2 separate regions of the Homo sapiens genome follow, and region 2 is reported to be linked to region 1. The links are microRNA targets in miRTarBase. Many come from high-throughput screens and were not tested one by one. Region 1 holds a microRNA gene; the other region holds the end of a gene's coding sequence.

What was found. Region 1 holds the annotated microRNA hsa-miR-4517 (AAAUAUGAUGAAACUCACAGCUGAG, at 3,445-3,469, opposite strand). A microRNA usually pairs through its seed, bases 2 to 8, with sites in the 3' UTR of a target mRNA and lowers its output. Matches are read on the target gene's strand: a 7mer-m8 pairs with bases 2 to 8, a 7mer-A1 pairs with bases 2 to 7 and ends in A, and an 8mer does both.
Region 2: the mRNA of KCNC4 is a reported target of hsa-miR-4517. Seed matches in the 3' UTR shown: 7mer-A1 at 3,167-3,173.

The regions. Positions count from the first base shown.
Region 1 is chr16:28,950,596-28,962,055 of GRCh38, reverse strand. It overlaps MIR4517 (microRNA 4517), which reads right to left and starts at 3,473; the gene lies at 3,395-3,473. NFATC2IP (nuclear factor of activated T cells 2 interacting protein) reads right to left here and starts at 11,119. Exons shown (of 8, transcript NM_032815.4): 1 at 10,658-11,119; 2 at 9,852-9,924; 3 at 7,374-7,491; 4 at 5,998-6,078; 5 at 5,719-5,905; 6 at 3,195-3,339; 7 at 2,956-3,065. The coding sequence starts at 11,044. NFATC2IP-AS1 (NFATC2IP antisense RNA 1) reads left to right here. Exons shown (of 2, transcript NR_186408.1): 2 at 7,058-9,154. RefSeq lists silencers at 10,664-10,783, 10,924-11,023 and enhancers at 10,743-11,243, 11,263-11,460.
Region 2 is chr1:110,230,040-110,241,499 of GRCh38, forward strand. It overlaps KCNC4 (potassium voltage-gated channel subfamily C member 4), which reads left to right. Exons shown (of 4, transcript NM_001039574.3): 4 at 2,872-4,005. The coding sequence ends at 2,933. Among named protein-coding and RNA genes, the nearest start is that of KCNC4, 25 kb to the left of the region's middle. RefSeq lists enhancers at 4,883-5,383, 5,384-5,884 and a silencer at 6,396-6,505.

The sequences.
Region 1 (11,460 bases):
GGCACACACCTGTAGTCCCAACTACTCAGGAGGCTGAGGTAGAAGGATCGCTTGAGCCCAGGAGTTTGAGGCTGTGGTAAGCCAAGATCGCACCACTGCACTCCAGCCTGGGCAACAGAGCAAGACCCTGTCTTTTTTTTTTTTTTTTTTTTTTTTGAGACGAAGTCTAGCTCTGTCGCCCAGGCTGGAGTGCAGTGGCTTGATCTTGGCTCACTGCAACCTCCGCCTCCCAGGTTCAAGCGATTCTTCTGCCTCAGCCTCCTGAGTAGCTGGGACTATAGGCGCATGCCACCATGCCCGGCTAATTTTTTGTATTTTTAGTAGAGACAGGGTTTCACCATGTTGATCAGACTGGTCTTGAACTCCTGACCTCGTGATCCGCCCACCTCAGCCTCCCAAAGTGCTGGGATTACAGGCGTGAGCCACCACGTCTGGCCCTGTCTCTTTTTTGTTTTTTTCAAAAGAAAAGAAAAAAATCCTGAGTTTGTTTTCTTCCCCCATATCTTCAGAGACACTTGCTCTGCTAACACCTTGATTTCAGACTTCTACCCTCCAGAACAATGAGAGAATAAATTTATGTTGTTTTAAGCCACCCAACTTGTGGTACTTTGTTACAACAGCCAAAATACAAAAGTGGGGTGCTGCTGGAATAAATGGTTAAATGTAACAGTGGCTTTGAAATTGGATCAGGGCTGGAATAATTTTTTTTTTTTTTTTTTTTTTTTTTTTTCAGATAGGGTCTTGCTGTCTCCCAGGCTGGAGTGCAGTGGCCCAATCTCAGCTCACTGCAGCCTCAATCTCCTAGGCACAAGCGATCCTCACACCTCAGCCTCCTGGGTAGCTGGAACTATAGGCCTGCGCCAGCATGCTGGGCTAATTTTTGTATTTTTTGTAGAGGCAGGGTTTCACTATGTTGCCCGGGCTGGTCTTGAACTCCTGAGCTCAAGCAATCTGTCCATGTTGGCCTCTCAAAGTGTTAGGATTACAGATGTGAGGCACTGTGCCTGGCCAAAGCTGCAAGAATTTTGAGGTGTATGTTAGGAAAAACCTAGACTGCCTTGAAGAGACTGCTGGTAGAAATATGGACATTAAAGGGAATGTCCCTGCAGGCTCACAAAGAGGAGAGGTGCAGAGAAATCTCCTATCATCTTAACAGGATGCATATATTGTTATGAACAGAAGGCTGCTAGAAATATGAATATTAAAGGTGTTTCTGGTGAGGTCTCTGGAGGAAATGAGGAATGTGTTATTGGTAACTGGAATAAAAGTTTCCAATAAAGGTGGCGCAATCATGGCTCACTACAACCTTGATCTCCCAGGCTCAAGCAATCCTCCTGCCTCAGCCGCCTGGGGAGCTAGGATTACAGGTGCTGGGGTTACAGGTGTGAGCCACTGCACCTGGCCCAATTTCTCACTTTTGAAATGGGAATGTCTATCCTATGTCTGTCCCATCACTGTATTTTAGAAGCAAATAACTTATTTTCTAGATTTCACGGGTCCGCAGAGAGAGAGAGAGAGGAATTTTGTCCCAGAATGGACCATACCAAGTCTCATCCAAAACTGATTTAATGATTTAGAAAATAAGATTGGGACTTCTTGAGTTGATTATATTTAAATGAGATTTTGGGCTTAAGAGTTGATGCTGGGATGGGTTAAGACTTGTAGGGATATTGGAATGGGATGTATATATTTTGCAGATGGGAAGGCCATGAATTTGGTGGGGGCTAGAGAACAGTGTGTTAAGGGTTGAACTGTATTCCCCTGAAAAGGCACTTTGTGGTCCTAACCCCTAGTAAATGTGAATGTAACCTTATTTAAAGTAGGGACTTTGCAGATATAATCAAGTTGAGATGAGGTTGTGCTTGGTTAGAGTGGGGCTAGCCCAACATGACCTATGTCTTTCCAAGAAGAGAGACGAACACAGACAGAGACACATGGAGAACACCGTGTGATCACAGAGGGAGAGACTGGAGTGACACAGCTGCAAGCCAAGGAACTCTGGCCACCAGCAGAAGCTAGAAAGAGGTAAGGAAGGTTTCCACTCAGATTCTCAGACGGAACCAGGCCCTGCCAACACCTTCAATTCAGACTTCTAGGCTCCAGAAGTGTACAGGAATAGGTTTCTATTGTTTTAAGCCACCCAATTTGTGTATTTCGTTAACAGTAGACTTAAGAAATGAATGCAGCAGGCCAGGCGCGGTGGCTCACACCTGTAATCCCAACACTTTGGGAGGCCAAGGTGGGTGGCTCACTTGAGGTCAGGAGTTTGAGACCAGCCTGGCCAACATGGTGAAACCCTGTCTCTACTAAAAATGCAAAAATTAGCCCAGCACGTGCACCTGTAATCCCAGCTACACGGGAGGCTGAGGAAAGAGAATCACTTGAAACTCGGAAGGCAGAGGCTGCAGTGAGCCAAGATCATGCCAGACTTCAGCCTGGGCGACAGGGCGAGACTCTATCTCAAAAAAAAAAAAAAAAAAAAAATGACTGCACCAAGTTGCTTATTCCACCTCTCTAGAACTCAATCTTCTTATTGCCAAATGAGGATAACAACAGTGCTTTGTGGCCCACATCAGATTGTTGTGAAATTAAATAAGATCCTGAATGTGAGGAAATTATCCTCAGCACGGGGACTAGCACTTAGCCGTGTGGCCTTCATTGTTATTTTGATGGGTTTTATTGATTACCGTCTAAGGGTCCTTTCTGTTTTAATCAGAAGGAGTCAGGAGACCGAGGGAGCACCCAGACTAGGGCAGAGGGTACCAGTAGAAGCGGGGAGGGAAGTTGAACGATGGGTTTTCCCACTACCTAGGATGGCTGGGAACCCAAGAACATGGAGGGCAGTGTCTCCTGCAAGTCAAGATTAGGGGAATCCATCCTCCATTAACTGACAAGAGAGACAAGAGGCAGCAGAGGACAGGGTGAGGGGCGTGGAGAGCCATCTCTCCCACTCACTCGAGACAGTGAGACTTCCAGTGTCTGGTGTTTCTCCTTTCCCTGCACCCGGAGCTGGAGCTGTTGGGACGTCTCTGTGGCCTCTGGAGAACTTGTTAGTACCACACAGTCTGTGGGAGGCAGAATCAGGAAGCCAGGGCTAAGTGGGGGCTTGGAAGCAGGGCCCGTGCTGAACCTCTCCCCATATCCCCTTCCCCTGGCAAATGCCTCAAGGCCCCACCTCCCTGCCTTCCTCTCACCAATGATGTCAGCCACTCCGAGCTTTAGGGTCCTGGGAGTGGCAGTAGGTGATAGCTCTGTCTCTCCAAAAAGCAAAAGGATCCTGCTTGGGGACACCCCAAGGTGGGTGGCCATGTGGTCCACCACACTCTGCAGGGGCTCCGACTAGGGATGGGGACAACAAGCAAAAGAGGTCTTCCTGCCTTGAAATCCATGCCCCCAGCCACACCACCCAAACACAAGCTCTGGCCTTAGCTACTTGCTAAGCTCCTCAGCTGTGAGTTTCATCATATTTACCTGGCAAGGTATAGAATAAAATCGTGTCAGCAAGGGGTACAGGCGAGTAACACAAAGAAATATAGCAGCCATGGGTTAGAACAAAGAAAGGGGTGGTGGGGATTGCAGCAAACTGGAATTCACATGCCACCTAGACAGGCTGGCTGTTACGCAGCTCCAGCTGATTGGCACTGTGTGGGAACGTGGGCCAGTATGACATCTTCCTATATTTTTCTTTTTTTTTTTTTTGAGACGGAGTTTCGCTCTTGTTAACCAGGATGGAGTGTAGTGGCGCAATCTCAGCTCACTGCAACCTCCGCCTCCCAGGTTCAAGTGATTCTCCTACCAGGCTGGTCTTGAACTCTTGAATTCGGGTGATCCACCTGCCTCGGCCTCCCAAACTACAGGGATAACAGGTGTGAGCCACCGCACCTGGCCACATCTTCTTATTTTTTAAGAGAAGCCAGAAATCTGGACCTTTTTTTTTTCTTTCTATTTTTAGTAGAGGCGGGCTTCACCATATTGGCCAGGCTGGTCTTGAACTCCTGATCTCAGGTGAGATCTGAGGCAGAGTCTCGCTCTTTCATCCAGGCTGGAAGGCAGTGGCACCATGCCCAGCTAATTTTTGTATTTTTAGTAGAGATGGGGTTTCACCATGTTGGCTAGGCTGGTCTCGAACTCCTGACCTCAGGTGATCTGCCTGCCTTCACCTCCCAAAAGTGCTGGGATTACAGGCGTGAGGCACTGCACCCGGCCAGAAATCTGGACCTTTGTATGAAATCACCCATCACAAAGGTGACAACAAACTCGTATATTTTTAAAGCACTTGGTCAGGCATGATGGCTCACACCTATAATCCCAGCATTTTGAGAGGCCGAGGCGGGAGGTTTGCTTGAGGTCAGGAGTTCAAGATCAGCCTGAGCAACAAAGCAAGATCCCATCTCCATTTTTTTTTTTTTTTAAGAGACAAGGTCTTGCTCTCTCACCCAGGCTGCAGTGCAGTGGCATGATCACAGCTGACTGCAGCCCCCAACTCCTGGACTCAGAAGATCCTCTTGCATCAGCCTCCCAAGTCGCTGGGACTACAGGTATGTGCCACCATGCCTGGTTAATTTTTTTATTTTTAGTAGAGACAAGGTCTCACTATTTTGCCCAGGCTGGTCTCGAACTCCTGGCCTCAAGTGATCCTCTCACCTTGGCCTCCCAAAGTGCTGGGATTACAGGAATGAGCCACCATGCCTGGCCCCCATCTCTATGTTTAAAAAATAAAATAGGCCAGGCACGGTGGCTCATGCCTGTAATCCCAACACTTTGGGAAGCTGAGACAGGGGAACACTTGAGATCAGGAGTTCAAGACCAGCCTGGCCAATATGGTGAAGCCCTGCCTCCACTAAAAATACATAAATTAGTCGGGCATGGTGGCGGGCACCTGTAGTCCAAGCTACTCGGGAGGCTGAGGTGGGAGAATCGCCTGAACCTGGGAGGCGGAGGTTTCAGTGAGCAGAGATCGTGCCACTGCACTCCAGCCTAGGCGACAGAGTGAGACCCCGTCTCAAAAAATAAAAATAATAAAAAATAATAAAATAAAATAAAATAAGTCTACAAAGAAAGCAGACACACTGTTGGAAAAGCCATGGGCTGCCAGTTTGCAGCCTCTGCCTTAGTTGCTTGACTGATGCACTGTGCATCAGTAATGGTAATGTCTGTTATCATTCCTGGTGTTGAAACAGGGTCATCCCTACAAAAATATCAGGCTTCGCCAGGAAGCTGGTGGAGTTCAGGGTGACTGAGTGACATCTGCTGTGTCCAGGGCAGTGAGAGCAAGCCCAGGAGGGAAGCCCAGGTTCCTAGGGAGGAAGGCAAGAGAGACTACCAAAAAAAGCTTCTTAGAAGACAGGATGCTTCACACCTGGAATCCCAGCACTTTGGGAGGTCAATGAGGGACGATCACTTGAGCCCAGGAGTTCGGAACCAGCCTGGACACAGTAAGACCACTTTTTGAAGGAAAAAAAAAGACACAGGATGCTTATGAGGAGCCTTGAAGAATGGGTAGAAAGTTTGCCAGAAAGAGAGGGGAGCGTTGGGAAAATGCAGACAGAGGAAACAAAAAGTGTGAAGGCAGGACAGACTGAAAAGAATGATGGGCAGCTCTAGAGAGCAGGATGGGAAAAGGATGACAGTCCCTTCTGCCAGGACACCCCTGCTGGACACCACCATCTCTCCAGAAGCAGCTCCTGGGTCCTTCTCCCATGGGCCTCAGGCACTCACCATCCTGAGGGGCAATCTGACCAGGTCAGCCCGGCAACGGATTTTGAGTGGGAAGAGTCGGGGGGTCTCTGGGAGGGTGGGCCCTTCCACCAAGACCACTTCATCCTCTTGGCCCTGTTGCTCTTGACCCTGAGGTGGCTTGGGGCTCAGACAGGAACGGAGATCCTGGAGGCGCTTGTTCACCTCACTGCAGTGCAGACAGGACTCTGGGTCAACTGGAGTCAGCCACCCTCCCGGATTGCCCTCTTCCATCCCAGCCAGAGCCCCTGCACTTGGCACCTTAACTTCTTGAGTGCCCGAGTATGCGTTCTGCTTTTGGTCCTTGGTGAAGGTGGGGACAGAGGAGAGTTGTCCAGATCCCTGTAGAAGCAAGAGACAGCAGGACGGAGGCAATGGAGAGAGACTGGCCCCACAAATCCTAGAAATCAGATCCTTGGACAATCAAGCATAGTCGGACGCAATGGCTCACACCTGTAATCCCAGCACTTTTGGAGGCTGAGCCAGGAGGATCGCTCGAGCCCAGGAGTCCAAGACCAGGCTGGGCAAGATGGGGAGACCCTATTTCTACATAATTAGCCAGGCATAGTAGAACACAGCTGTAGTCCCAGCTACTCAGGAGGCTGAGGTGGGAGGGTCGCTTGAACCCAGGAATTTGAGGCTGCAGTAAGCTATGATCACGCCACTGCACTCCAGCCTGGGCAATGGAGTGAGGCCCTATCTCTAAAAATGTAAAAATACATTTAAAAAATAAAGAGGAAGCAGCTTCCAATAACCCCCATTTCACTGGAAGGCAGGGGTAGGGGAGAGGGAAAGCCTGAGGCATCATTTTTATATTTACATGACCTGAATATTAGGGAAGAAAATGCCTCATTTTTGAGACTGTCACTTCCCAGGAAAATGTCCAATAATATCCGACAGACGGCAAGCACTTACCATATGTCCAGTGTTGCCCAGGCTGGTCTTGAACTCCTGGGCTCAAGTGATTCACTCCCCTTGGCGTCCCAAAGTGCTGGGATTACAGGCAAGAGCCATTGTGCCTAGCCAAGTGTTAACTCTTGATTGACTCAGCAATTCATTGACACAAATGCCACTATTATCCCCAGGTTTGGGGGTATTTTTTGTCTGTCTGTTTGTTTGCTTTTTAGAGACAGGGTCTCACTCTGTCACCCAGGCTGGAGTATAGTGGCACGATCATGGCTCACTGCAGCCTCTAACTCCTGGGATCAAGCGATTTTCCCATCTCAGCCTCCCGAGCAGCTGGGATCACAGGCATGCGCCACCATGCCAGGCTAATTTTTTTTTATTTTTTGTAGAGACAGGGTCTCTCTATGTTTCCCAGGCTATAAAACGGGGTTTTATAGATGAAGAAAGAGAAGCACAGAGAGGACAGGGAAGCTGGATTGGAACCATACCTTAAGCTCACATTACTAGGGTCTCAGAATCCACTCCCAAGGGTGATCCTGAAGGGTTCACTGTCACCCTCCGGGGTAAGCCACCTCTTTTCCCCAAGCGATTCATTCCCCACATGAAACTCAACAGTCCTTCTATCCCTTCTTCTTAACCTTTCAGGAGTCACCCAAGAGTCCTGCCTGCCTCCGCTTACCCCTCCAACTCACTTCCTGCTCCCAGGGCCCAAGGGCCCTGGCCTCACTCACAGAAACTCTGTCTTTTTCTTCTCTTCTTTATCCTTAGTCCTCAGCTTTGTCTTCCAGGGAGAGCCTGGTGATGGGGAGCCCTCATGGTAGAGACCACTCGAATCTGCCAGCTCTGCCTCTGGGGGCAGAGGAAGAGAAGGTAGAAGGGGGTTATCCAAGGGAGGCCAGCGAAGGCCAAGAAGAAACAAGTCAGAGGCTTCAAGAAGGTCCTAGGAAAGGAGGAGACCACGGAGCCCCTGGCACACACAGGGCCACATGATAATATTGGGAAAGGGGGCAGGGGATGAGACTGCTATTTAGTATAAAGATAGCTCATATTAACTTAAAATTAACTTAAATTTCTCATGAAAGGAAACCAGGTATTATTTTCTATAATATAGAAATTTCTATTTGCCCGCTGTCAATAAAAGATCATCACAAACCACAAAAATAAATACTGTGAAAATTAAAAAATGATAAGAAACCCTAGATCAGTGGCTCTGAACCAGGGACAATTTTGCCTCTGCGGGGACATATAGCAATGTTTAGAGACAATATTGGTTATCAAAATGTGGAGGGCGAGGGGGCTGAGGTATAATACTTCCCAGGGATGGAAGTCAGGATGCCGCTAAACTTTCTACAATGCACAGGACAGTTTCCAACACCAAAGAATTTTCCAGTCCAAAAAATGCCAGTAATGCTGAAGTCATGAAATCCTGTCCTAACTAACTATGGCAGCTGCAAGAGGCCTATGATTCTGCATTTCGTTTTTCTTTTTTTTTTTTTGAGACCAGGTCCTACTGTGTCACCCAGGTTGGAGTGCAGTGGCATGATCATGGCTCACTGCAGCCTCGACTTCCTGGGCTCAGGTGTTTCTCCCACCTCAGCCTCCTGAGTAGCTAGGACTACAAGTACACATCACCATGCCTGGTTAATTTTTTATTTTTCTGTAGAAACAGGGTCTCATCATGTTGCGCAGGCTGGTCTCGAACTCCTGGGCTCAAGCAATCCTCCCATCTCAGCCTCCCAAAGTGCTGGGATTACAGCACTTTGAGCCATTGTGCCCAGCCGATCCTGCATTTCTAGCAAGCTTCCAACGGATGCCATATATGGCTGGGCCCACGTTTTGAGTATCAGGGATAGAGGTACCTTTTACGTAGCACTTCTGTGTCCTAGGTACTGTCCTAAAGCATATATCTAGCCAAGAGGCAGCTCTCTCTATATTCCCTTTCGTTAATTCTCACCAAAATCAGCACCAAAATGGGGTCTACTATTATCCCCACTTTGATAATGAGGAAATTGAAGCACTGAGAAATTAAGAAACTTGCCCAGGCTGGGCGTGGTGGCTCACGCCTGTAATCCCAGCACTTTGGGTGACCAAGGCAGACAGATCACCTAAGGTCAGGAGTTCGAGATCAGCCTGGCCAACATGATGAAACCCCATCTCTACTAAAAATACAAAAAAGCCAGACATGGTGGCGGGCGCCTGTAATCCCTGCTACTCGGGAGGCTGAGGCAGGAGAATGGCTTCAACCTGGGAGATGGAGGTTGCAGTGAGCTAAGATTGCGCCACTACACTCCACCCTGGGTGACAGAGTGAGACTCTGTCTCAAAACAAGAAAAAAGAAACTCGCCTAAGATCACACAGCTATTAAGAGATAGAGCTGAGGCCGGGCACAGTGGCTCACGCCTGTAATCCCAGCAATTTGGGAAGCTAAGATGGGCGGATCACCTGAGGTCAGGAGTTCAAGACCAGCCAGGCCAACATGGTGAAACCCCATCTCTATTAAAAATACAAAAAATTAGCCAGGCGTGGTGGGAATTAGTCAGCTACTGGGAAGGCTGAGGCAGGAGAATCGCTTGAACCCAGGAGGTGGAGGTTGCAGCGAGCCGAGATCGTGCCATTGCACTCCAGCTTGGGCAACAAAAGCGAAACTCTGTCTAAAAAAAAAAAAAAAAAAGAGAGAACTGAGATTCAAACCCAGGCCAGATGGCTCCTGTTTGCTTTTAATCACCCCACTGTACTCCCTCATGGTACAAGAGTCTTGGTCCAAGGTCTCCATTTGCCCACTGGATTATTTCCTTATTAGACTAGATTCCTATTCCCCGCCCTTGAGTTGTTTGCAAAAAATGCATCAGTGGGGGAGGACAAAGACAGGGCATCCCTGATAAGATTCAGAGAACACCCTGCTGGCTCCAGTGTTCCCAAAGAACTTGCTGCAGATGTAACAAGATGTCACAGATTCTCAACACCTTACCGCCTCCTGCCCCGCCCAGGACTACAGAATCAGCATCTCTTCAGGTGGCACCAGAAATGTATACATTAATACATTCTATGCTTGTTAACAATCCAGCTCCTGTGGCTGGGATGCAGGAGTCCCCTCTCCCACGCTCTTCCCTTGAGCCTCAGGAGACAACTGACTGCAGGAATATAAACCCCAGGAATTCTCTTAAGAGAAGCCAGCGGCTGCGTGCCTCTCCCTGGAGGCCCTCCCTTACCTTCCTCATCCCCTGGAGGGTAGAGTTTCAGGAGGGATAGATCATCTGGGATAAGGCGAAGGCTGCTTTTAACCTGCAAAGACAAAGAAGGGAGAGGGGTCAGGCCCAAGTCCTTCCCCTACCGAAAGAAAAAATTGGGGGTAATTCTTCCCTGACACCCAGCTCCCAAATCCTCCCTAAGATCGTGGACACCTTGGCCCTCTCCTGGCAACCTAGAAGTCCAGCTTCCCCAGGATTCAGAATGGAAGTACCCTTCACCCTTTCCTCCATCTGCCTAAGACACTCTGAAATGTATGCTTCCTTGCCCTTTTTAACTAGGTTACTAGCCGCCCCTCTACCCCTGACTCTTAGGGACTCTCAGCCCATTGCTCACACGACCATCGGGGGACCCCAGCCTCTGGAGCCGCCCAGTCCTCTCTGAACCCGCATGGACCCCAACCCCCAATACTGCAGCTCCCTGGCTTCATTTGCCATGGACCCCAACCTCAAAATCCAACGGCCCCAGGTCCTCCCAGTCCCTCTCCAAAATCTCAGGAATCCCAGCTCTTCAGCCTCCCTGTGCCCCCAAGACTCTAGCTCCTAGGAATCCTAAACTTCCAACGCATCCCACCCTCCTTCACCACCCCAGTCTGCAGAAAGTCCCGGAGCCCTGCCTCTCCCTGCCTCCAACACCCTAACGCCCGAGGACCAGCCCCAGAACGCCAGCCTCAACACCCCTATAGCCCTACCCTCCCCGAACGCCGGCCCCTCCCTGGAGGCCAAGCCCTTGGCCCTTCCGCCGGTCCCCTCCCCGGGACCGGGCGCACCTTCCCCGAGTACACCGGAACCAGCGGCGCCTCCCCCGGATCCAGCACCAGCCGCCGCCGCCGCCTGACCGGCTCCCGCGGGGGTCCTGCGGGCCGCCTGTCCTCCCCTTCGCTGTCACTGTTGCTGTTATCCCGGGACGCGACCGGCCCCGGGGGCTCCGGGGGCTCCACCTCAACCTCGTCCGCGGCACCGCGAGCGGTGGCGACCTCCAGAATTTCCTCATCGCTGTCGGTGACCAAGTCCACAGACACTACGTCCAGCGTGCCCCGGGATGGAGACCGCTGGGCCCGAGGACGCCGGCCCCGACCGCCCCAGCCGCCCCGACCCCCTCGGCCGGCACCGCTACCTCCGGACCAGCGGCCCCGCTTCCCCACAGGCTCCGCCATGGCACACTTTCCTCCACAACACACGCCCGCCTCCTCTCGCCTCGCCCCGCCCCCTTCAGCGACTTTCGCCTTGCATTGGACAAACAGCCTGCTCGTCAGCAACTCTTCGCGCCCCACGCGCGGGATCCGCCTTCCCGCCTTTTCATTGGTCTCTGTACCCGCTCATCATGCGCCCACCTCTGAAACCAAGGCGCCAAAGATTCCAATCACCTCGGCACAATCACCGTAGCTTTCGATTCAGTCGGCCTCACCCATTGGCTGGGCCACCTCTCCACAGACGAGCCTCTCCCGGACCCGCCCAACCAAGACAACCGTCTTCCGGCTTGGTTAGTCGCAGGGCATCCTGGGAAATGTAGTCCTCGAGCGGTAAGGTTTCCGGGAGAAGGAAGGCGGGCCTGGAATTCCCTGTGGAAACC
Region 2 (11,460 bases), not on the chromosome of region 1:
GGCAGAGCAAATTATTGCATGGGGTTGGGGGTGTTGTGTAAAGCCTGTGCCCGGAGTGTCCCCATCTCGGCACCTCCCTCAGTCTTGGGCAGACACAGAAATGTCCTTCTGGAAAGGTCTGTTCAGAGTGGGCACTGGGATACCCCCACCCTGCAGTGGTTTGTGGGGCCTGCCTCCCACTTGCTCTCAGAATGAAGTGACCTGACCCATAAGAAGTGAGAAGAGGGGATGTGGGGGCCTCCATGCAACTGCCCTTCAGGAGGGAGCAGGCCCTTGAAGTGACAGGGATGGGGAAGCCTGTGGAACAGGATGGAGATGCGAGGGCCCCTCCCCCAACAGCGAGAGGACTCCCTGGCATGGAGGGCCTGGGCTCTGACAGGGACACAACGAGCCGGGTGTGCAGGTTCACAGGGATGCCACCACTGTTTTCTCCTCTGACTTGCCTTTCTGGTTCAGGGAACCGAGGCCGCTATTTCTGTGGCAGCCCTCAAGTTGTCAGGAGCCCAAGTTTCCACGGCACCCACCGCCTCCTTCCCTCTCTTCCCTCCCACAGGGCTGGGTCTGGCTCATGGCACCCCTACGGTGGGCACAGATGTCCCTGGGCGACAAGATGCAGCATTGCCAGGCTGGAGCCCTAATGCCTCGGGGAGCTGGCTCCCACACATCCCTCCTGGCTCTCTGGCTTCATCTGGGAGAGATAGAACCCAGATAGCAGGAGGGCTGAGTAGACTGTCTGCCCTTACAACCTCTCAGCACCTCTGGGCCTGCCCAGGGCCCTGGGAAAGGGCAGGGTGAGCCCAGGCATTTGCAGAACCCCTGCATACCAGGCACTGCCACAGGAAGTGGCTGCCTGTACAGGCGTCAGGCTCACCCAGGCCTTGAGCCTCCCTCCTTGAGAGAAGGCTCTCTCCCACCCACCATCTGAGAGTAGAGTTTGTTTTCCTTGGGCTAGACTTGGACCTGCACCCACTACTTTGTTGTCAGATGCCTTTCCCCTGCAGCTGGAGCTCAGCCCCTTCCCACAGAACTGGGAGGCAGTCTGGGTAGGAGTTCACAACCTCGCCTTCCAGTCTGTAGCAGGGTTACTGGCAACCTAGAGACCAATTTTCAGGGCTTCTGAGAGGTAGAACCAGAAGGAAGGGCACTGCAACCTAGAAGCTGGCTGACAGGAGCCAGAGGGGAGGCCATGGACTGGCTGCAGGGCCCAGGCTGCCCTTTCACAGAGCTTCCTGGGAGAGGAGGGCCTGCTCTGCTCTGGCCAGCGTCACCCTCTGAAATCCCTGCCCCACCCCTGGTGGGTCAAATAGGTAAGAATCCAGGATGAGATTCCTAGGAAGACCCCTCCCCAACTCTCAGAGGTCCCTGAGGATGGAGAGTCCATGGAAGCCAGTGGAAAAGCAATCTAAGGCCATTATCTCAGTATGGGCTGCTCTGCTCCCTGGCTTCTGGGACACTTGACAGCCTTGCTGTGACTCCTTCTGTCTCATCCTAGACCCATCCTAGACCCCTCAGTAGCCCAGGCATTCTCACCGGTGCATCTTAGGGCCTAATTGCCTACTGGGAGCCCAGAGGCACTTCCCTGTCCCCTAATGAGTGGGGATCAGTGGCAGGTGTTGCTTAAGTTACGCAGACAGGAGTACAGGGCAAGACCACAGCTCTGTCTGCGTGTCCTCAGAAATGGGGCTCTGAAGAACCCTGAATTCCTCTGATTTCAAGGATAGTACTCAGAGGCCCAGAACACTTGTAGGCAAAGGGGCAGTGTTTAAGGAGGTGGCTGGGGCATACAGTCTTAAGAAGATGGAAACAGCATCACCCCAAGATGAGGACACCCCTTCCCTAGAAAGGTGATGGAGGCACCCCGAAGCCCAGGATGGAAGCTGTGAGGTCTGGATGCCACATCTGCACTCCACCTTGACAGGAGGCCTAGCCCTAGACCTCAGACCCGAGAGCTGCAGGGGTTGTCCCAGCGGGTCTGGAACTCCCACCTCCACTGTTGACCCAGATCTGCAGCTGGGACAGCAGTACTCCTACCTGCCCTACCTGTGCTCCCACTGGTAAGGTAGGGGAAGGAAAGGCCCAGGTGGTAGACATCCCAGGCTGAGGGTGGGATCCCAAAAGGGCTCTCTGAGGGGTTGGGTTTCTCAATAAGGTACTATTTCCTGACCTTCTCTCCTGAGACAGGCACATTCGTCCTCCGTGACCTTCCCCTTCAGCATTCACCTGAGGCTGCATGCCCTCCAACTGCTGGGACTCTGTTCCTGCCACATTGAGGAAGGGGGCTGGGCACGACATGGCATCATACTCAGGAGCCTTCTTCACCAGCTCCTTGGGACAATGGAATATCCCAGGGTGGTGACAGCAGATGGAGCTACTTGGGGGAGAGCTCAAGTTGGTCAGGCAACAGCTGGGGTGATGGCCTGTGAGCCACAGGCCACATCAGGAACTTTCCCCACTGCCTCCATGCAAGGCTGCAGAGCTATGGTCCCTTTCTCCACTGCACTGGAGCTTTGAAGACCTAAGAGGCTAGTGGTTCCTGGAGCTAGTGGTTACCTGAACAGGTATGGCGATGAGCTACAACATCACCTGAGTCACCAGAGTTGGGTTGGCAGAGGGGTGAAGGGTTCACCCCATTCCCTGACCCATCCATGCTCTTCCTGGCCTTTTAGCCCTGGGTTCCTCATGCCTTCCAGCTCTGCTCCTGGTCTACTCCTTAGCCCACACCCTGTGGGTCAGCAGCTGGCTTCCTTCTAACGTCTCATTCTTTGTTTCTCCCTTTCTTTTGCTGAACTCCCTGTCCCCCCAACCCCAGAAGGCAATGTTGAGCCGAAAGCGTGCGTCCCAGTGTCTCACACCTGTGCTCTTTAAACACAGAGACCTGCCAAGACGCCCTCTCGTCCAACTATGCCCAGGCTGAAGTCCTCACCCTCTCTTAAAGCGGCACCAACGTGAGAGAGACAGGCAGACAGACAGAAAGCCAGAGGCTTAGGGAAACTCTGGAACCCAGACAAGAATCTTTTCGCTGGGAAAGACTCAGATATCCTTGTTTGCACAGGACTGGTGGAAAATCTCCCATGCGACCCTCGGGGCCCAGAGCCATCTGGGTCTGATGTTCTGTTCCATTGTACATCGAAGAGATATATATGCACATATAGTATCTATATTCATACATATTATACTCTTGTGTGTAGTGCACGTGCTATTGGTGGTTTGTCTTCTTTGTTAGGCTGTGTCTCCCTAAGCCCTTGCCCCACCCAGAGTTTCCCGTCCCCTTCACTGATTTCTGTTGTTTCTGCTGACTGTGTGGGTGGAATGTCCCAAGAAAAGTGCATCTGGGAATTGCCAGTCCAGCTGGGTAGTCCCAGGCTCCTGTCTTGGGGATGTTTCCCCTGTCAGCAAGTAACCTGGTGAAGTCTATTGAAGGCCAGACTGCCCCCTAGGGTCACTGCTTCACTAGCCGCACCCCACCCCAGATTGGGGTTCTACCTCCCACCCCACATCCTCGTTGTGGGGGGACTTCCAGGGGCTCCTCTGCAGCCTCCTCCACTACTTCCTCCACCCCATCTATGTCCTTGACTTAGGGGGGCATTTTGTCTTTTTTAGATTTGATTTTGTTCTCTCTCCTTTGTCTGTTTGTTGTCAAAGATGCTGCTGGGCAGACAGGCAGGGAAAGGATCTGTCTGCCCATCTGGCCCAGGGGGTCCGAGAAGGGAAGCCTTGGGCAAGAGGAGACCAGTTGCAATACTGTACTTCCTGGTCAGTGGCCAGAGGATGCGTGCAATAGCAGAGGCCAGGTGACCCCTTCAGCCTTGGCCTCTGCCCCTCCCTTGGCCCTCCCTCCCTGCTCCTCCCTGGTGTTGGTCAGTCCTTTTCTAAAGCTGTCCCCTCGTGTGTGTCTGGGGCATGCCCAGGCTGGGCCCTGTGCCCTGTCTGCATGCCTCCAACTGTCATGCTGTGCTCGAGCCCCAATAAAGACATCTGGAGCATCCTGCTGCTCCTGCTGTGTGAGCACCTGCCTCTGCCTCTCCTTTCTGGCTCTGTGTCTATTGGGACCTCCTGGGGCTCTCACCCCTGACACCTGAGGAGTGCACACACTCAGCATAACCCCACTCCAGCAGGAATCATCAGTGTGGCCTGACCCCTGCATTTTACAGGGAGAGACTAGTGCTCAGAGAGGGCAAGTCATCTGCCCAAAGCCACACAAAGAGGACTAACCCAGGACCCCGAGACCCAAACAGTGTTCTAATATCCACTGCTGTCCCCAAGCCCCTGCCATAACATGGAAGAAAAGACTGTTCTTTGTTTAAGGAATTCCACTGCATTCCGTTTGTGCAGGGGGCCTCCCCTCCTCCCTGCAATTGTACCAGTTCTAAATGGGCCAAGACCCTGGGGACGCCAAAGTTATTGGCTGGATGGCTGATGAACTGAGGCCAACTAGAGACTGGTGGCACAACTGGGGACCACTTAGGGATGGAGAGTGAACACATCCTGGGCCTGGATAGGACGGGGAGATGGTGAGTGATGGTCAGACGTGGCCCTTGGCTCTCACTGTTGTTATCCCTCTCACGTTCACATAGGGGCACACGCAGGGCCAGCTTCATGGGTGTGCAACCTGTGCAGCCACTCAGAAGGGCCCCATGCTGGGTTTAATGCTTGGCTGTCACCATCATGAAATTAATAATGGTTGAACAGGGGCCCTGCGTTTCCATCTTGCACCAGGCTCTGGCGGGTCTGGTTGCCTGCTTGCCTCTCCTTATTCTTGTCTTACTCCTCACTCTTACTCTGGGCATCTGTGTAGGACCATAGGGGCCTCAATTCAAAGTCTTGCTTTGCTGCTTGCTAGCTGGGTGACTTGGGGGTGACTCACCGAAATGGTTTCCCTGTTTGTTAGGGAATAATGATGGCCCCTGTTTCAGAGACAGAGTGAAGAGCCTGGCCTGGTGTCATGTGTCTACCTGTGATATGACATATAGTAGCGGCACAGTGTCAGCTCCCTCCCTGCCCTGTTCCTGTCACTCTCAGACTTTTCTCCACAGACTTCTGAGATCTCCGTGTCCAGCTGCACCAAGAAAGGACAAGAACACACCCGGGAGCTGTCTTGGGCAGTGTAGAACAGCAGGGTGAGGACGGAATGGCCGAGGAGAGGGAAGAAGCCAGGGGAAGCCTGTTCCTGAAGTGTAAGGAAAGATCGGGCTTGGAGCCTGGGCCAGCCGAGGCAAGGGGGTGGCAGGCAGCCAGTGTCAATTAAAGATAAAATTTCTCCTCCGGTAGTGGAGGGCAAACAGTGGCTGTGGCCCCCCTAGACAGGAGAAAGCCATTTGCAGCCAGGCTGGCCTTGGAAAAGCTTGGCCAGGCGATAATGGGACGGGATGCGCTGCTGACTCCATAATGATATTACGCATCAGGGCCCACGGCCAAAGTGGCTGTTTTTTCTGTAGATCGATGTGGAACCATTTCATGGTCAGGGGCTGAGAACCCAGCCAGCAGCAGGGGTACTAGATGCCAGAGTGGTCCTGAGGGGACTGAAGGGGTGGCAACTGGGGTCCCCAGTGACCGTTTCAGGCTGCTGGAAGAGGAGGGGGCAGTGTGCAGGAGGGTGGAGGGGTGGACGAGAGAAGCAGCAGACTGCCCCTCCTCCCCACCTCACAGAAACAGCAGGCCGTGCTGTCAAGGAAGAAAGGGCTCTGGCTTCCTCCTGTTCCCCAAAGCTGGAGTCGAGCCCAAGGTAGGGAGCTGGTTAAAAGAACAGGACATTGTTTAAAAGAATAAGACAGACTTTTGAAGTCAGGCAGACTTGGGTTTGAGTCCTGACTCCATCACTTCCTTGTTGTGTGACCCTGGGCAAGTTACTCAGCCTCTGTGAACGTCTATTTCCTCATCTTTTAAATGTAGTATCTGCCTGAGGCCGTGTCTCTCTCATTGAGCCATGAGGAGAAATGAGTCGGCGCCTGTAAAGCCTCGCGCACAGTGCCTAGCACATAACCATTGCTAGAGGGAGAGGGGAGTATTTTGGGGCAACTCACTCCAGTAACAGATGACCAGTTTGGTTTGATGACCTCACTTTTCAGTGAATCAGCCTCATTTCACTGAAGTCCTTAGTCCTTATCTCCTTGTGAAGGAATAAGAGGGGATGATTATACCTAACAGCGAACATTTATTGAGTGCTGGGCAGTACATTTCATGCTTATAAAGATGCATTCCAAGATTGATGTTATCCTTACCTTTGTTTTACGAGGAGAAAACCAACACAACAATGTCAGGTCATTTCTCCAAAGTCACACAGCCATTAAGTAGCAAAGCTGGGATTCAAACTCAGTCTGGCTCTGTGGGTCCAATGCTTAGCCACTCTCTGAACTGAGTGGGGCTTGTGAGTCATAACCTCCAGTGTAGGAGTTTGTGCTTTTAGTGTTATTTCCTTAACTGCAATTGATTCTCATAGCAAAGGTATTGTTTTCCCCTTTTACAGATAAGAAACCAAGGCTTGGAGAAGTGAATCATTAAACTCACTCTCCCTTTTACGTGTATGTACCCCACCCCACACACACATAAAGCGAGGAGGAATGTCCTCTTGGGATTCATTCATTAATTAGCAGCAGGCAACACCCAGCTCAGTGACTGCTTGGTTCCTTCCCTCTGCGACCCCACTGGAGTTTTATTCTCTGACGCACAGAAGTGGGTAAGTGGGGGTAGGACTGCTCTGGAACCCAAGTTACATGAGGAGTGGCTCAAGCTGGAGAAGTCTTGGAAACCTGATCCCAACTACCAGGTGTTTAAAGGGTACCTGTGGGGAAGTGGGTTTAGATTCTTCTCTGATTGCAGAGAGCAGATCCGGAAATAATAGGTGGAAATGTTAGGAGGGCAGATTGGGTTTAAATTTTAAAAAATCTTTTTTTAATGAAATTTTTGATTTGTAATTTTTGTGGGTACATAGTAGGTATATATAAGAACCTTATTTTCTGTTGTTTCCCTTGCTATTATAAATTTATTACTGCCAGTCATGGTGGCTCATGCCTGTAATCCTAACACTTTGGGAAGCTGAGGAGAGTGGATTGCTTGAGGCCAGAAGTTTGAGACCAGCCTGGATAACATAGTGAGACCCCATCTCTACACAAAAAAAAAGAAAAAGAAAAATTAGCCAGGTGTGATGGCATGTGCCTGTAGCCCCAGCTTCTCGGGAGGATTTCTTGAGCCCAGGAGGTTGAGGCTGCAGTGAGCTATGATCATACCACTGCACTCCAGCCTGGGCGACAGAACGAGACCCTGTCTCAAACAAACATTTATTTAATACAAGGTATTGGAAACCATCCCCATACCAAATCAACAGGGAATCCCCTGTCACCCTTCCTCAGTCCCACTTTCCTCCCCAGAGGTGACATGGTTAACATCTGGTGTGGGTCCTCCCAGGCTTTTTGGAAAAAAAAAAAACTTTCTAACAAAATTACCAAATCAAAATGGGTTTCCCTGCGGGGTAGTGAAGTTCCCTTCCCTGAAAATGTTTGGAGACACAGTGGATGATCATGTGCTGCACCAGGGTTCGTGGGAAGTATTTCTGCTCGGCGTGGGAGGTGGAATTAGAAGACTGTTTCCAATCCTAAGACTTTCTGACTCACGTGGCACACACAGCTAGTTAGTGGTGGAGGCAGGTCCAGAACACAGGTATTCAGATGGGGTTCAGATGAACTCCTTTCCTAGCAAGATTTTCCTTAAATTCTTCTCTGCCTCTTCCCAGCCCATCAGGGATATAGGGCAGGGCAGAGAGACATCTGTGTCTCCTCTAGTCTGGAGCGAGGGGAGTGTCCTGGGCCTGGGTTGTGATGCCATCCAGTGCCCACCCTCGTGGGGCTCCTGTGGCATTATTGCAGTGAGCACTTTCTTTCCGTTCCTGGCTCCAAGCCCTGTGTGTGCATACACTGGTACCCACACAAGAGGTAGCACGTGAGCTGGCTCAGTCACTTGGGGCTGTGGTAACCGCATTCAAAATGCAGCATCATGCTAAAGAGCCGCTGGGGACTCTGGGGACAAGGCTGTCTCCGACCCAGCTTTAGGGGGTGAGGAGAGGGAGCCAAACGGCTACAGCTGCAAGTCAAAGAGGTCAGAGGCCTTCTGATGTTGGCACTGGAAGCCTCTCCTTTCTTTCCCCACAGGTTATGGGGGCTTCTCCACTCCCCGCTCTTACTTGCCTGCTTCTCCAGGGATCCCTAGAAGAGCAGTGGTTAGCAAGCATATGCTATAGCCATCAAATACGAGTCTACAGAAATGTAGGCTTCCCCTTGGGGCTGAGTTAGGGCCTCTGCTTCTGAAATGAGCAACCTCTGGTTGCTGGTGGGGGCTAGGGCTTGCTCCCTTTCTCTCCTCACATACTCTTTCCTGGGTGACCTCATCCCCTCCCATTGCCTTAAACATCTTCCAGGTACTGGTGTCATCCACTTGTGTAGTTCCAGTTCAGAAATCCCGTCAGCTCCATTCATTCATTTGTTCATTCATTCAGCAAACATATGTGGCATCTCTGTCCCAGGTACTGCTCTACAACCTGGGTGTACAATAGGGACCCAAACAGACACTCCCTTCCCCATGCACTCCCTGCTCACAGACACACCTGCGTGGCAGTGCCTGGGTGTCTTCACAGCTCCCTGATGCCGAGCTGTGATCCCACCCTTCTGCCTCCCTGGTCCCCCTCAGCGTGCTGCCACCATTCACCTTGAGGCTGAGATAGATGTTGTCAAAACCACCCTCTCATTCCTTAATTCACTCACTCATTTTTCGTGCATTAAATCTTTATTAAACACCTGTGAACTCTGTCCTCAGGGAAACAATGGTGAACAAGACCAACAGGATCCCTGCCCTCATGGGACTTACATTCTAATCAGGGAGAGAGGCCAGAAGACCAATAGATAAAAAATATCTCCCACCCGTATTCCAACCTATTACCAAGTTCTACATTTCTAGCTCTGCAGGAGCCTCCTCCCAGGTCTCCCTGGGTCCCATCTGCCCTTCTGCCACCAGTCTCCACCCAGTCACCAGAGAGAGAGCTTCTTAAAATGGAAACTGGATCAGATCATGTCACCCCTGCTTAGAACCCTGTCAATGGCTGGGTTCCCACTTCGTGTACAATCCAGACTCCTTAGGAGGGCCTGTGATGCCCTGCTGCTCCTCATGGCCTTCCTGCCTCCGCAGACCTATTCATGCCCCTGCTCTCAGCCCCTGAGACCAGCAGCTCACTTTCCTGTCAGTTTCCCACACATCCCCAGCTCTCTCACCTTCAGTGTTTTTCCACTTGCTTTTCCCTCACGGGGACCACTTCACCCCAGTCCAGCCCCACCCCACCTCCTTCTCTTGGCTGAGAAGGCCTGGCTGTAAATTTCACTTTCTTGGTGAGGCGTTTTCCCCTCACACATCCACGCCCCTCTGCCTCTGTCAGTTTCCATCACTGCAGCCAGTGCATTTTCTTCATGGTACTTACAGTCCTTTGTAACTATGAATTGTGTATTGCCTGCTTCCCTGTAAGTTGCTAGGGCCTATAGGGGCTCGGTAAATATTTTATGAACAAATGAATGAATGGGCTGGAGATAGGCCTGGCATGAGCAGCTGCTGAACTCCATCCTCTCTTATTCCTCGCAAGCTGTCTCCAGCTGGCTTTTGCACCTCATTTCTAGGGCATTCCTGGGAGTCCTTGGGGAATAACATGAACGCTCTTCTTTTTACATTATGCATTTCCTGCCTGAGAAACTGTCAGAATAATGAGGAAGCCTTGGAGAGAGAGTTCCCATAGCCCTTCCTCTCTCTTCCTTTTAGAACCTACCATTTTCTACCTGGTACTTTTTGGTACTTGTCAAATTCCCCTTCCCACAGTGGCGAGTTGCTCAGAGGTGCTGGTTCATCCCAGCTCCCACTCGAGGGCCTAGCTTAGTGGTCCATGCAGAGTAGGTGCTCAGCGAAATGTTGAAGTGAATGAAGGATATGGTGAGAAAGGAAGCAATGAGTAAGAAGGAAGAGTGAGAAAGAAGGAAAGAGGAAGAGGAGGGAGGGGCAAAGGGGTTGATGAAGAGTGAAGAAGCAGAGGGAGGGAAGTGAGGTCAGGGAGTGGGAAACGGGGAAAGAGAACCCTGGCCCGGTGTCCACCTCAAGCCAGCACCCTACCCCACTCCTTCCAGTCTTCCTGGACTCGGAGCCTCCCAGGCCTGCCCCAGCCTTAGGTGGGACAGCAGGGTTCCTCCAGCCTGCCACTGACACCAAGGGCACCCTGAACTCAGCTCAGACCCCAGGCTGCCCGGAGCAGGAGAGACTGCTCCTGAAGAGACTTCTGCAGGGACGAGAGCCCAGGATTCCTTAACCTGAGGCCCAGCTCCATCCCTGAGATCCCTAGAGACTCCCCTCAGCTCCCCTCCCCTCAGCTCCTCATATTGAGCCCCTGATCCAAGGACGATTAACTCCAAATCCAGCATCAGTGATCAAATGTTCATAGCAAACAAAGGAAAACAAACACCACCTTTCCTCCTTGCCTCAGCCCTGGGGCCCCAGAGGCTTGGCTCAGAGACAGGTGCCCTGCCTCCTCCCCACGCCCGGCACAGGCCTGCCAGCTGCCCCTCGAGAAGACCAGGGGCCAGCCTCAGAGGCCCGGAGGATCTGTTCCCAGAGTAGCTGTTGCCACAGTGACCCTCCCTGGGGTGGTGGCTCCTAAGCTGCCATGGGAGGCAGAGCTGTGCCACTACCACGACGACCACCACCACCACCAGGGCTGCCACCACAGCAAAGCTGCTCCTGGGGCCTCCCTCCTAGTTAGGCTGCCGAGAGACCAGTCTGTGCTATCCTCTCACCATGCCAGGCAGCCACAGTACCAGGGAACAGGAGTCACAATCAGCCCCCTTCCAACACCCCGGCAGCATCCCGCTGTCTGCCCCAGGACCCGCTCTTCCCCTGAGGGGATGACACTGCCCCCCTGGAAAATTGATTAGGGACCTCATTTCTGTCAGCACCCCACTAGAGATGGCAACCAGCTCCCAGGGCGCCTGGGGGCGGGATGTTGAGGGCAGCAGGGAGGTAAGAAGGCTCCAGTGATACCAGGCTCCCTCTGGGCCTCGGTGCTAGGTGGTGACAAGCTGGGTTTCCCTGGACAGGACTGGAAAGTTGCTCTCTAATACTCTCTATCTTTCTGCTTGGGTTCTTTCCCACCCCTGCCAGAGGCTCTTGCTAACTACTGTCCCCTTACATACTGGCACCTAAACATAAACACACATTTCCAGAGTCGTCCTGCTCTCTTCATTTTCTGACCTATGCACAAGAAAGTATTTTGTGTCAGTCATCAGCACTCTAGTATGAATTTAGGGTCCATGTATATTTTATTTCCCAGGAGATAGGACTGTTGACCTTCTCTCAACTTGTGGAGTGACAGCCTTGTTCTCTGTGATAGGAAGTCCTAGCACCAGAGAGCTCCAAGCAGGATAGATAATTTTTTCGATTAGGAGA